Linked DNA regions of Homo sapiens. The protein of the gene in region 1 purifies or fractionates together with the protein of each later gene. This does not show direct contact. Each region holds a gene or a part of one and is shown on either strand. Other genes may lie near its edges. The genes, in order: RAB33A, ERGIC1 and ALDH4A1.

Region 1 (3,650 bases):
TCTCTACAAAAAATACAAAAATTAGCCGGGTGTGGTGGTGCATGCCTGTAGTCCCAGCTACTCGGGAGGCCAAGGTGGGAGGATCACCTGAGCCTGGGGAAGTTGAGGCTGCAATGAGCCGAGATCATGCCACTGCACTCCAACCTGGGTGACTGAGCGAGACCATGTCTGATTTTTTAAAATTAATTAATTAATTTATTTATTTATTTTTGAGACAGAGTCTTGCTCTGTCGCCCAGGCTGGAGTGCAGTGGCGCCATCTCGACTCACTGCAAGCTCCGCCTCCCAGGTTCACGCCATTCTCCTGTCTCAGCCTCCCGAGTAGCTGGGACTACAGGCGTCCACCACCACGCCCAGCTAATTTTTTGTATTTTTTAGTAGAGACAGGGTTTCACCGCGTTAGCCAGGATGGTCTCGATCTCCTGACCTTGTGATCCACCTGCCTCGGCCTCCCAAAGTGCTGGGATTACAGGCGTGAGCCACCGCGCCCGGCGATTTTTTTTTTTTTTTTAATGAGATCATTTCATGTGTTTAGGGAGCCTGCCTGCTGTGATCTTCCTTTCTGATGGTTCTGAGGCCACACCACTGGTTCTTCTATTTTCTGCTGCGAGCAGCCTGCTTCCTGGCTCCCCTCTCACGACAGACACGTCTGCAAAGAACTCAGGGTGGGGTTTACAAAGAGCTGGAAGGGAGCAGTGCCTGCAGTTTAAATTCGGAGCCTCCAAATAAAAGCTTCAAGGCTCCCAATAGTGTTGGAAAGACAGAGGAGGTCTCCAGCAGAGAGGGCCCTCCTGGCAGTTCCGGCAATTTGGGCGGCATACGCAATTATGAAGCCAAAGAAAAGCCAAATGGCCAACCTCACTCAGCCTCAAACACCTCACACACTCCCACCCGTGTTCCTGCTAGTGGCAGGTATTTTTAGAGTCCTGAGCTCATGGTGTTAAAGCATCTGCCACATGCCTGAGGGCTGGTAGGGATTCAGACTTCTTCAGAGGCAAAAGGCAAGAGTGAAGACTCCTGGGGGGTGGGGGGAGTGGGGATCAGGAGCCAAGTGGTAATGATATTCCTGGGCTATGCCTGCTGTCTTCCTACTGACCTCCATTCCTCCTGTGGTCTGCTCTCCCTTTCTTCCTGTTCGGAACACCACGGAGAGGTGGAAGAAATGAAAATATTTTCTGTCTCTTGCTTGCAGAAGCAAATCAGTCTTTGAGGACTTATGTTTTTTCTGTGTGATCACAGTCAGACGTTCTCTCTGAAATCCCCTTGGCACATATCTAGGATGCCAGACTGCTTGTAGTTTTAGTGGTTCAGGCCATCACTGCCTTTTGATAATGTGTCTGCTGCTGATAATGATGATGATGACAACCTCAGTGACGAGTGTGGTCTGATGCAGAAAAAGACTGCTTACAGTCTTGCTGGAGAGATGCCAAGAGCACTGACGAGACAATTAGAAAACATAAATCTATTCAAAATGGTATGATGCAGACTCAAAGTGCAACAGAGATTCCTAAGAAAAGAGAATTGAAGGGAAGTTGGCGAAGGTTTGAGGAAGAAGCCTGAGGCGTGAGCTTAACCTTGAAGAATGGGTGAGATTTGGATAGGGCAATGAGGGGGCAGCTGATTCTATAGGGGAGGAGTGGACTAGCATGACCCAAAGTACAGAGGAGGGAATCAACCAGGTGTAGCTGAGTAGTTTGAAACCAGGTTGGGAAGGGTCAAATTATGGCAGACAGAATTCCACATGTGGAATCCATGTGATGCCACATACAGTAGAGGGCTGCAGTCGTTTCCTGAAGAGGTGAATGGCATGCTGATACAAGCAGGGATTGACTAAAGCTAGTCAGAAAGCCAGTATTCAGAGATCGGGCACTGGGGCTCACGCCTGTAATCCCAGCACTTTCAGGGGCTGAGGCAGGTGGATCGGCAGTGATTGGGCCTCCCAACATGCTGGGATTACAGGAGTGAGCCACTATACTCAGACTCCAATTTATTTTTATTTATTTATTTTTTATTTTGAGATGGAGTTTAGCTCTGTTGCCCAGGCTGGAGTGCTGTGGCACCATCTCGGCTCACTGCAAGCTCCGTCTTCCGGGCTCATGCCATTCTCTGGCCTCAGCCTCCCGAGTAGCTGGGACTACAGGCACCTGCCACCACACCCAGCTAATTTTTTTATATTTTTTGGTAGAGACGGGGTTTAACTGTGTTAGCCAGTATGGTCTCGATCTCCTGATCTCGTGATCCGCCCGCCTCAGCCTCCCAAAATGCTGGGATTACAGGCGTGAGCCACTGCGCCCTGGCCTCCAATTTATTTTTAAGTTCACTTTTTTGTTACCTAAGGTCAGGAGTTTGAGACCAGCCTGGCCAACACGGCAAAACCCCATCTCTACTAAAAATACAAAAATTAGCCAGGCGCAGTGGCACACGCCTGTTATCCCAGCTACTTGGGAGGCTGAGGCAGGAGAATCGCTTGAACCTGGGAGGTGGAGGTTGCAGTGAGCTGAGATTGCACCACTGCACTCCAGCCTGGGCAACAGAGCAACAGTCCATCTCAAAAAAAAAAAAAAAAAAAAAAAAAAAGCAAGCAAGCGAGCAGTGTTCAGGAGACCCTGCAATGGAAACATCCACAATCCAAAATACTTTGCTCTAGTCCAGGAGTGAGGAGAGGAGAGGCTGGCCGAGGGCCGAGGGACACAGAAATCAGAATAGAAGAAGGGTTCAATCTGAAGGTCTTGCCAGAGGAACTTGGAAGCTGTGTCAATAGAGGGAGATGACGGGGAGCCTGGACAATGAAAACTGATATTCGGAATGATGACTCTAGGGCCCTGTAAAATCTTCACTCAGCCGACAGATTCAATTATATTTACTAGATTATACTTACTGACTGCTAACTCCAAATAAAGGCTATACTTCGTTTTAAGAGCCATAGCAGTCAATTAGTGGCCATAATCAAATTTTCTTTGATAACTGAGAATTGTATAGGGCCTTGGGACCATCATTCTGAGCATGAATCTCCCTTGTCCAAGACGTTGGATATATAAAGGGAAATAGATTGGGCTGAATGTATATCTCCTGGGAGTTATGTCTTTGCATATGTTACAGATAGCAGCTTTTTCTTCATAATTTGGCCTTTATCCCAAAAGCTGAGATACAGAAGAAAAATCCAGTGAATTAAGTTCCTTTTACATAACCAAAAAGTGAACTTAAAAATAAATTGGAGGCTGGGCATGGTGGCTCACGCCTGTAATCCCAGCACTTTGGGAGGCTCGATCATTTGAGGTCAGGAATTCAAGACTAGCCTGGCCAACATGGTGAAACCCCATCTCTACTAAAAATACAAAAATTAGCTGGGCATGGTGGCGCACGACTGTAATCCCAGCTCCTCAGAAGGCTGAAGTGGTAGAATCTCTTGAACCCAGGATGTGGAGGTTGCAGTGAGCTGAGATCACACCACTGCACTCCAGCCTGGGCGACAGAACAAGACTCTCATCTCAAAATAATAAATAAATAAATAAATAGGGCTTGAAGGTGAGATTTTAATACTAACTTTGTTTTCTTTAAAAAGTTATTCAGGCTAGTGGCTCATGCCTGTAATCCCAGCACATTTTGAGGCCGAGGCAGGAGGATTGCTTGAGGCCAAGAGTTCGAGACTAG
Region 2 (3,650 bases), on another chromosome or scaffold:
GCTCCAAGGTGCTGCTGAAGCTGGCATCTGGGACTGCACTTTGAAGAGCAAGGTTATTAGTAGAAAGTTACGGCCCCTTACTGTCCACTTCACTGGTGGGGTAACAGAGTTGCCGAAGGTCATGCAGGAGTGATGGGTGGGACGGGAACTCCACGCCCCAGCCTCCCGAGGCAAGGCTCTCCACCGCCACCCGACCTGGCTCCCCTGCTGCTCTCAGCCCTGCTTGCTATTGCTTCTCCCAATTCAGAGCACTTCTCCTCCGTCTTGGCTGTGCATTAGAATCACATGAGAGACTTTAATATACAGCCAGGGTTGAGGCTCACTGATTTAGATGTACCGGGTAAGCCTCACCCCAAATACCCTCTTCACACCCTGCCTGTCTCTCCCACGCCTGACAAAAACTGGCTAGGAGTAACTCCAAATAAAATACGAAAGGATTACCAGATGGGGAATGTAACTTAACCAGGACACAGCTGGCTAAAGCCCTGTCTCCTGCTACTACAGCACCACAGTCAGGAATCCAAACGGCCTTGGGAGGAGAGGACATTCCATCTCATTCCATGTCCCCGCGAGCAGGTAAACATGATGCTCTAAGCTGGAAAACCCCCACTGGTCAGCGTGGGAAAACTGAGCCCCTCGAGGGTGATGCCATTAGCTGGTGTGAGGGTCTTTAAAGACCATTTCAGAATCAGGTATCACGCTACATGAGGCTAGGGGGAAAAAAGTTGATGGCTTTAAGCTTCTTAATGAGCACTGTTGGGTGAGGATTAGTGAAGAGAAACCCAATGAATCCAATTAGAAGAGTTCTCAGTTCTCTCTGAATTTAGTGAATGGAAAAGAGAAAGCTTTAGAGATGAGCCTACAGGACACAGTGGAGCTCTGGTGCCAAATGGCAGTGTTCCAATCCCAGCTCCAGGAACGGGAACGACCGTGTTTCCGAACTCTGTGGCACCTCCACTGGCTCACCTGTAAAGTGGGGTAACAACAGCACCTCCCTTGTAGGACTGTGGAGAATTAAAGGGGCTGATACAGTAAGATCCTTACAACAGTGCCTGGCACTAGCAAATGTTCAATAAACCCGAAATACTGGCCTTTTCACATAATTTTCTCTCTGGTCTAATTTTTATTTTCTTTTTGCCCTGATTTTTAAGGCTATATGTGTATGTGTATGTGTGTGTATGTGTGTGTGTGTGTATGTGTGTGTGTGTTTTGAGATAGGGTCTTGCTCTGTTACCCAGTGTGGAATGCAATGGCATGAACATGGCTCACTGAAGCCTCCACCTCCTGGGCTCAAGAGATCCTTCCACCTCAGCCTCCCAAGAAGCTGGGACCACAGACGCACATCACCACACCTGGCCATTTTTTTTTCCCCATAGAGATGGGGTCTGGGGTCTTGCTATGTTGACCAGCTTGGTCTTGAACTCCTGCAATCCTCAAGCAATCCTCCCACTTTGGCCTCCCAAAGTACTGGGATTACAGGTGTGAGCTACCACACCTGGCCCATATATATATACTTTTTTTTTTTTTTTTTTTTGAGACAGAGTCTCGCTCTGTTGGCCAGGCTGGAGTACAGTGGCAAGATCTCAGTTCACTGCAACCTCCGTCTCCCGGGCTCAAGCAATTCTCCTGCCTCAGCCTCCCGAGGAGCTGGGATTACAGGTATGTACCATCAAGCCCGGCTGATTTTTGTATTTTTATTAGAGACGGGGTTTCACCATGTTGGCCAGGCTGGTCTCAAACTCCTGACCTCAGGTAATCCGCCCACCTCAGCCTCCCAAAGTGCTGGGATTACAGGCATGAGCCACAGCGCTCATTTTATATTTTTTAAAACTTGCTGTAAAGTATATGTTCTTGTCAGCTTCCTTGGAATTCTTTCTGGAAGAAACAGCAGGGTAGAAATACAGGCATTCATGTTAGCTACTCTCTGCTGAATGTTAACTCTGTGCTCAGAGGTCCCTGTGGTGGCTGAGGCTTAGCTTGGTGTAGGAACTGATGGGGCTACCAGGGTCCCATTCCCTATTGGGGCCTAAGGAATTAAGACTGGGCCAGGTGCAGTGGCTCATGCCTGTGATCTTAGCACTTTGGGAGGCCAAGGAAGGAGGATGACTTGAGGCCAGGAGTTCAAGAACAACCTGGCCAACATAGCAAGACCCCATCTCTATATAATTTTTTTTTAAAAAGGAATTCACACTGGATCCTTAGAGCAATGAGACCCATTTGAAGGTTGAAATCAGGACATGAAAATATCAGATCAACTTTGGAAAGCTCACTAGGGAGTCCTGAGGAGGTCTGGGGTATCCTGGAGGGAGAAAGACCACTCAGAAGGCCAGAGTGAAAAATGGTAGAGGCCAAACCAAGGCCCTGCAGCAGGGCCAGCCCCATCAGGGCCGCATGACCTGTGCAGGCACACAGGGTCACACACTCAGAGGGGGGTCCATGCTTGGCTGAATGCGCTGCTGCTGCCGTCCTGAAATTCTTAATACTTTTTCAACAAGGGACTCCACATTTTCATTTTGCACTGGGCCCCACAAATTATGGGCCTCATCCTGCATTGCAAGTTGCATTGCACATTGATCCTGCAAGTGTGCATTGATCACACTTGCCCCTACATCTACTCTACCAGGTGAGGCAGCGAAGTTTACATCCCCTCCTTAAAATGAAGAAATGGAGGCTCCGAGAGGGGAAGTCAATGGTCCCAGAGCACATCTGGTCAGTGCCAGTGCAGCGGCACCCCCGAGGCCTTGGGTTTTCAACATGGGGGCTGTCACTGTGGGACAGCAGCCACCTGCACCTCCCGGAAGGCAGTGCTCAGGCACCACTGGGCCTGGGCACAGGGCTTCCGGATGCTGTTATCTTCCCTCCTCACCCACCCTGGGCTGGTGTGCAGAAGGCAGCAGGTGCTACTGGCCCCAGGCCAGCCGGAACTCGAAACAACACACACGGATGTGGGTCACAAGGCTAGTTCCACAACTGCAACAGCCAGCCATTAGTGAAACAATTTAACAAGAGCAAAGCAAACACAATAAATCATTGAAAGCTCAGCCTCCCTCCCCTGCGTTCTGCCTCCTTCCTTAACCCCAAAAACAACCTAGGAACGGCAGATTCAAGGGTGGAGAGGGGAGATTTCTCCACTAATGGCTGAAAATCTGCCCACTGAAGCTGGCATATCAAGTCACGTCATGTCTATGGCTTCCTTGACAGATTTCAAGAGGCATCTCCAAGGATCGAGTTTGGCTCAAGCACAGTTCTAGGTGCTGGAGATGCAACCTTGAAGAAGCCTGATAAAAACTTCTTGCCCTCAGGAGCTCATGTACTAATGGGAGGGAGAGAGAAGCAGCATGATAATTAAGTGAATTATATAATGTGTTAGGAGATGATGGGTGCTTAAATAAAATGACACAAATAAATATGGCGGCCAAAATGGATGAGGCGCTTACTCTGTGTCTAAATGCTTTCCGCACTGCCTCATCCCTCAACTGTTCTACTTCGGTGAGTACTCTCCTCATTCCCATTTCACAGACAGGAAAACACAGAACTCAGTTGCACCAGGCTCTACAGGCAGTAAGAAAATCAGAAGTATCCGTAGGGAAGGGCAAGAGTGCACTATTTTTCCTGCTTCTGATTTTAAGAAGGGGAACACGAGCAGGACG
Region 3 (3,650 bases), on another chromosome or scaffold:
CAACTGAGGCCCATGGAAATTAAGGAAAACTTGTCCGAGGCCTTGAGCTGGTGAACACCAGGCCTCCCAACTGACTGTCTCTTTCCTCCTTTAACCCTGACTTCCTGTTTTTTTCTCAATCAACTTTACCATCAGTATCCTCAGTTCTCTTTGGAAACAGGCAGGATACAGATTAATAGCCAGCCCAGGCATGTAGTAGGCTTATAAGAGTTCACTTCTGTTCCTTATTTCTTGTGCCAAGCCCAGACATGACTCCAGCTCAGCCCGTCTGACATCAGGGGGCTTGTGGGCCGGAATTGGTTACTACCGTGTCCCCTGCAGTGATCCTGGGTGGTTTTGGACTCTTCTCAGGCTACCTGATGGTTTAATTTTCAAAATATCAAAAGCACACAATGCTTTTCCTAGTCTGCCCAGCCCTTGGATGGGCACAGCTTGCCCTGGGTCGAGGGCTGGCATTTCCCACCATTCCTTAGACATTCTCTGCTCTTGAACTCCTCCAACCAGTGGCTGGGGCAGTGCCTTTGGCCTGGAATGTCCTGCTGGCCACCTCGGTGAGCCCATCCAGTGCTTTGTGGCCTTGGCAAGGCAGCTTCTGTCCCTTCAGTATCCTCGTCTGCAAAATGGGGATGATTGTATTAACAGCCACGTAGCAGGTGGCTGCAAGGATTAGCGGTGATGTGATCAGTGGTTTCCTGGATGCTGGTACCGAATGCGTGCTCTGTGAGTATTTGAGTTGGAGAATAATTAAAACCTGTGATTATCATCACACTTCTAAAGTAGTGAAAGCGCCATTGAGGCAGTGCTTGGCAGTGGCACCCCTGGGAGCAGCCTGCCTCCTGTGCCCTGCATCTGGCCCGGCACACAGTAGGCGTTGAACGGTTGCTGTTGAGATGGTCCAGAACACAGCATGGCTTGGATCCTGGCTCCAACTCTTGGCAGCTCTGTGGCCCCGGGCAGGTTACTCACCCTCTCTGGGCTCCCTTATGTTCTCATATGGAAAATAAAGATGACAGTAGTAGTCACCTCATAGGATTGTCCTGCGTGTTAAATGGTCTCATACATGGAAAGCACTTTGGAGTGCCCAGCACCTGAAATGCTCAGTAAGTGCTGCTGTGGTTATGATGATCCCCCTCTCCCACCAATGGGCTTCCTGGAGTGATCATCTTCGATCAGGAATATCAAGACAGCAGGGCCCAGCAGTGAAGGATGGTGGCAGGAGGGGAGGTATGGAACTCAGATGTCCTCGGTCTCTTCTGTTTATTCCAATTAAGTACCCCAGATGCCAAACCTCTTCTGTTATTATTGTTGGTTTGTTTGTTTGTTTGTTTTGGAGACAGAGTCTCACTCTGTTGTCCAGGCTGGAGTACAGTGTCATGATCTCAGCTCACTACAGCCTCAACCTCCTGGGCTCAGTCATCCTCCCACCTCAGCCTCCCAAGTAGCTGGAACTACAGGCGCACATCACCATACCCAGCTAATTTTTGTATTTTTTTTTTTTCGTAGAGACGGGGTTTCACCATGTTGGCCAGGATGATCTCAACCTCCTGGGCTGAAGTGATCCTCCTGCCTCAGCCTCCCAAAGTGCTGGGATTATAGGCGTGAGCCACTGCGTCCGACCTTCTGTTAGGGTTTTGACCCTGCTCACCTCAGGGGATGGAAAAGACTTCTCCCTTTCTTGCAGCCTCCTTAATCCCCAAACCTTCCCTTTCCTGGCAGAGGTCATGGCATGGAGTGAAGAGTCCCTGGGCTGAGCTGCTGTGCCAGTGGACAGCTGAGTGACCTTGGGCAAGTCACTGCCCACCTTGGGGCGGCGGCTTTCCTCAGGTGGAAATGAGGTTCTAGCTGTATGGTGAGGAGGATGAACGTGTCCCATCAGCCCCACCTGACCATGGGCCTCTGAGATGTTCCAGGTGCTTCAGCCATACTGTAAGTCTCCTGAGTAAGGAACAGCTGGGGTCAAATCCTGCTCTGTCACTCATGAGCTGTGACCCTGAGCCAGGAGTGAGTAACTCTGAACCTCATCCGTAAACAGATCATTCTACGGTCGAGTGTCCCTCATCTGAAATGCTTCAGAACAGAGTGTTTCGTTTTTTGGGTTTTTGTTTTTTTGAGACGGAGTCTCGCTCTACCTCCCAGGCTGGAGTATAGTGGCCAGATCTTGGCTCACTGCAACCTTCACCTCCTGGGCTCAAGCCATCCTCCTACCTCAGCCTCCTAAGTAGCTGAGACTACAGGCACACGCCACCACGTCCAGCTAATTTTTGTACTTTTAGTAGAGATGGGGTTTTGCCATGTTGGCCAGGCTGGTCTAGAACTCCTGACCTCAAGTGATCCGCCCTCTTCCGCCTCCCAAAGCGCTGGGATTATAGGCATGAGCCACTGCGCCTGGCCGGAAGTGTTTTGTATATTGGACTTGCTTGGATTTTGGAGAATTTGCCGAACAAGTTGAGCATCCCTACTCCCAAGTTCCAAAGTCCAAAATGCTCCAATGAGCATTTCCTTTGAGCGTCACGTTGACACTCAAAAAGTTTCAGATTTTGGAACATTTCGGATTTTGGATTTTTGGATCAGGGATGCTCAACTTGTCATGCGTTCCTCATACGCTTATGTGGTGGATTCAGTGAGATGATCCTGTCTCACTTAGGTTAATGCTTGGCATGTGGTGGCAAGTGCTTGACAAATGTTGCCTGATGTTTGCTGGGCAGTGGCTGAAGCAGCTCATCCCTGGCATTGGGTCTTTCTTTCTTTTTTTTTTTTTTGAGACATCGTCTCACTCTGTTGCCCAGGCTGGAGTGCAGTGGCACGATTTTGGCTCACTCCAACCTCTTCTTCCCGGGTACAAGCAATTCCTCTTCCTCAGCCTCCCAAGTAGATGGGATTACAGGCATGTGCCACCATGTCCAGCTAATTTTTGTATTTTTAGTAGAGACGGGGTTTCACCATGTTGGCCAGGCTGGTCTCAAACTCCTGACCTCAAGTGATCCACCCTCCTCAGCCTCCCAAAGTGTTGGGATTACAGGTGTGAGCCACTTTGCCTGGCTGGGCCTTTCTTTCCCTCCAGGCCCCGCCCTGGGCCCTGCACTTTCTCTGCTCACCTAGTGTTGCCTTTATGTCGGTGATAGGGAGGATTAGCCTTATCAGGCTCCAGATAATGGCTGGAAAAGTCAGGAGGCTGCATGAAGCAAAGATAATTTCCTTTCTATTTCTCCTCTCCTTGTCCTTGGCCACCCCTCACCTTAGCCACTGGGGAACCCAAGGGGCCAGTGTCCAGCCCCAGGTGATAGCAGAAGAGCACTGGCCTTGGAGTCCAGTCCTGGGGGCCTGGTGTCAGCTCTGACACTCATGCATTGATTGTATTTCTCAGGTGCTTACTGTGGCCAGTCAGTGTGTTAGGCTTGGGGTGCCTGGTGGTGAATGGGATGGGTACGGGCTGGCTGTGTGGAGCCTGTGGCCTGGCGGGCACACAGATGGTCAGTCAGAGCTCTATAATAGGGTTTTCACTAGTGCTTCCAGAAAAGTCTAGAGCTATGAGAGGAATCCGATAGGAGCCCCATTCCGGCTATGTGAGGTTGGACCAGTGGAGGACATCTCAAGCAGAGAGGACCCCAGAAGAGACCGGGGTGACCGGATTGCACCAAATGGGGCAGGGT

Evidence for each region.
Region 2: the proteins of RAB33A (region 1) and ERGIC1 purify together in Homo sapiens (affinity purification with mass spectrometry; one large-scale study listed by BioGRID and IntAct). This does not show direct contact.
Region 3: the proteins of RAB33A (region 1) and ALDH4A1 purify together in Homo sapiens (affinity purification with mass spectrometry; one large-scale study listed by BioGRID and IntAct). This does not show direct contact.

The regions. Positions count from the first base shown.
Region 1 is NC_000023.11:130,178,459-130,182,108, forward strand, and holds part of RAB33A (ras-related protein Rab-33A), read left to right. Parts: intron 1-3,650.
Region 2 is NC_000005.10:172,837,125-172,840,774, reverse strand, and holds part of ERGIC1 (endoplasmic reticulum-Golgi intermediate compartment protein 1), read right to left. Parts: intron 3,426-3,650; exon of another isoform or gene 3,202-3,425; intron 577-3,201; exon of another isoform or gene 1-576. UniProt on the Homo sapiens protein: Possible role in transport between endoplasmic reticulum and Golgi.
Region 3 is NC_000001.11:18,896,002-18,899,651, reverse strand, and holds part of ALDH4A1 (delta-1-pyrroline-5-carboxylate dehydrogenase, mitochondrial isoform a precursor), read left to right. Parts: intron 1-2,503; exon of another isoform or gene 2,504-2,581; intron 2,582-3,650. UniProt on the Homo sapiens protein: Irreversible conversion of delta-1-pyrroline-5-carboxylate (P5C), derived either from proline or ornithine, to glutamate. This is a necessary step in the pathway interconnecting the urea and tricarboxylic acid cycles.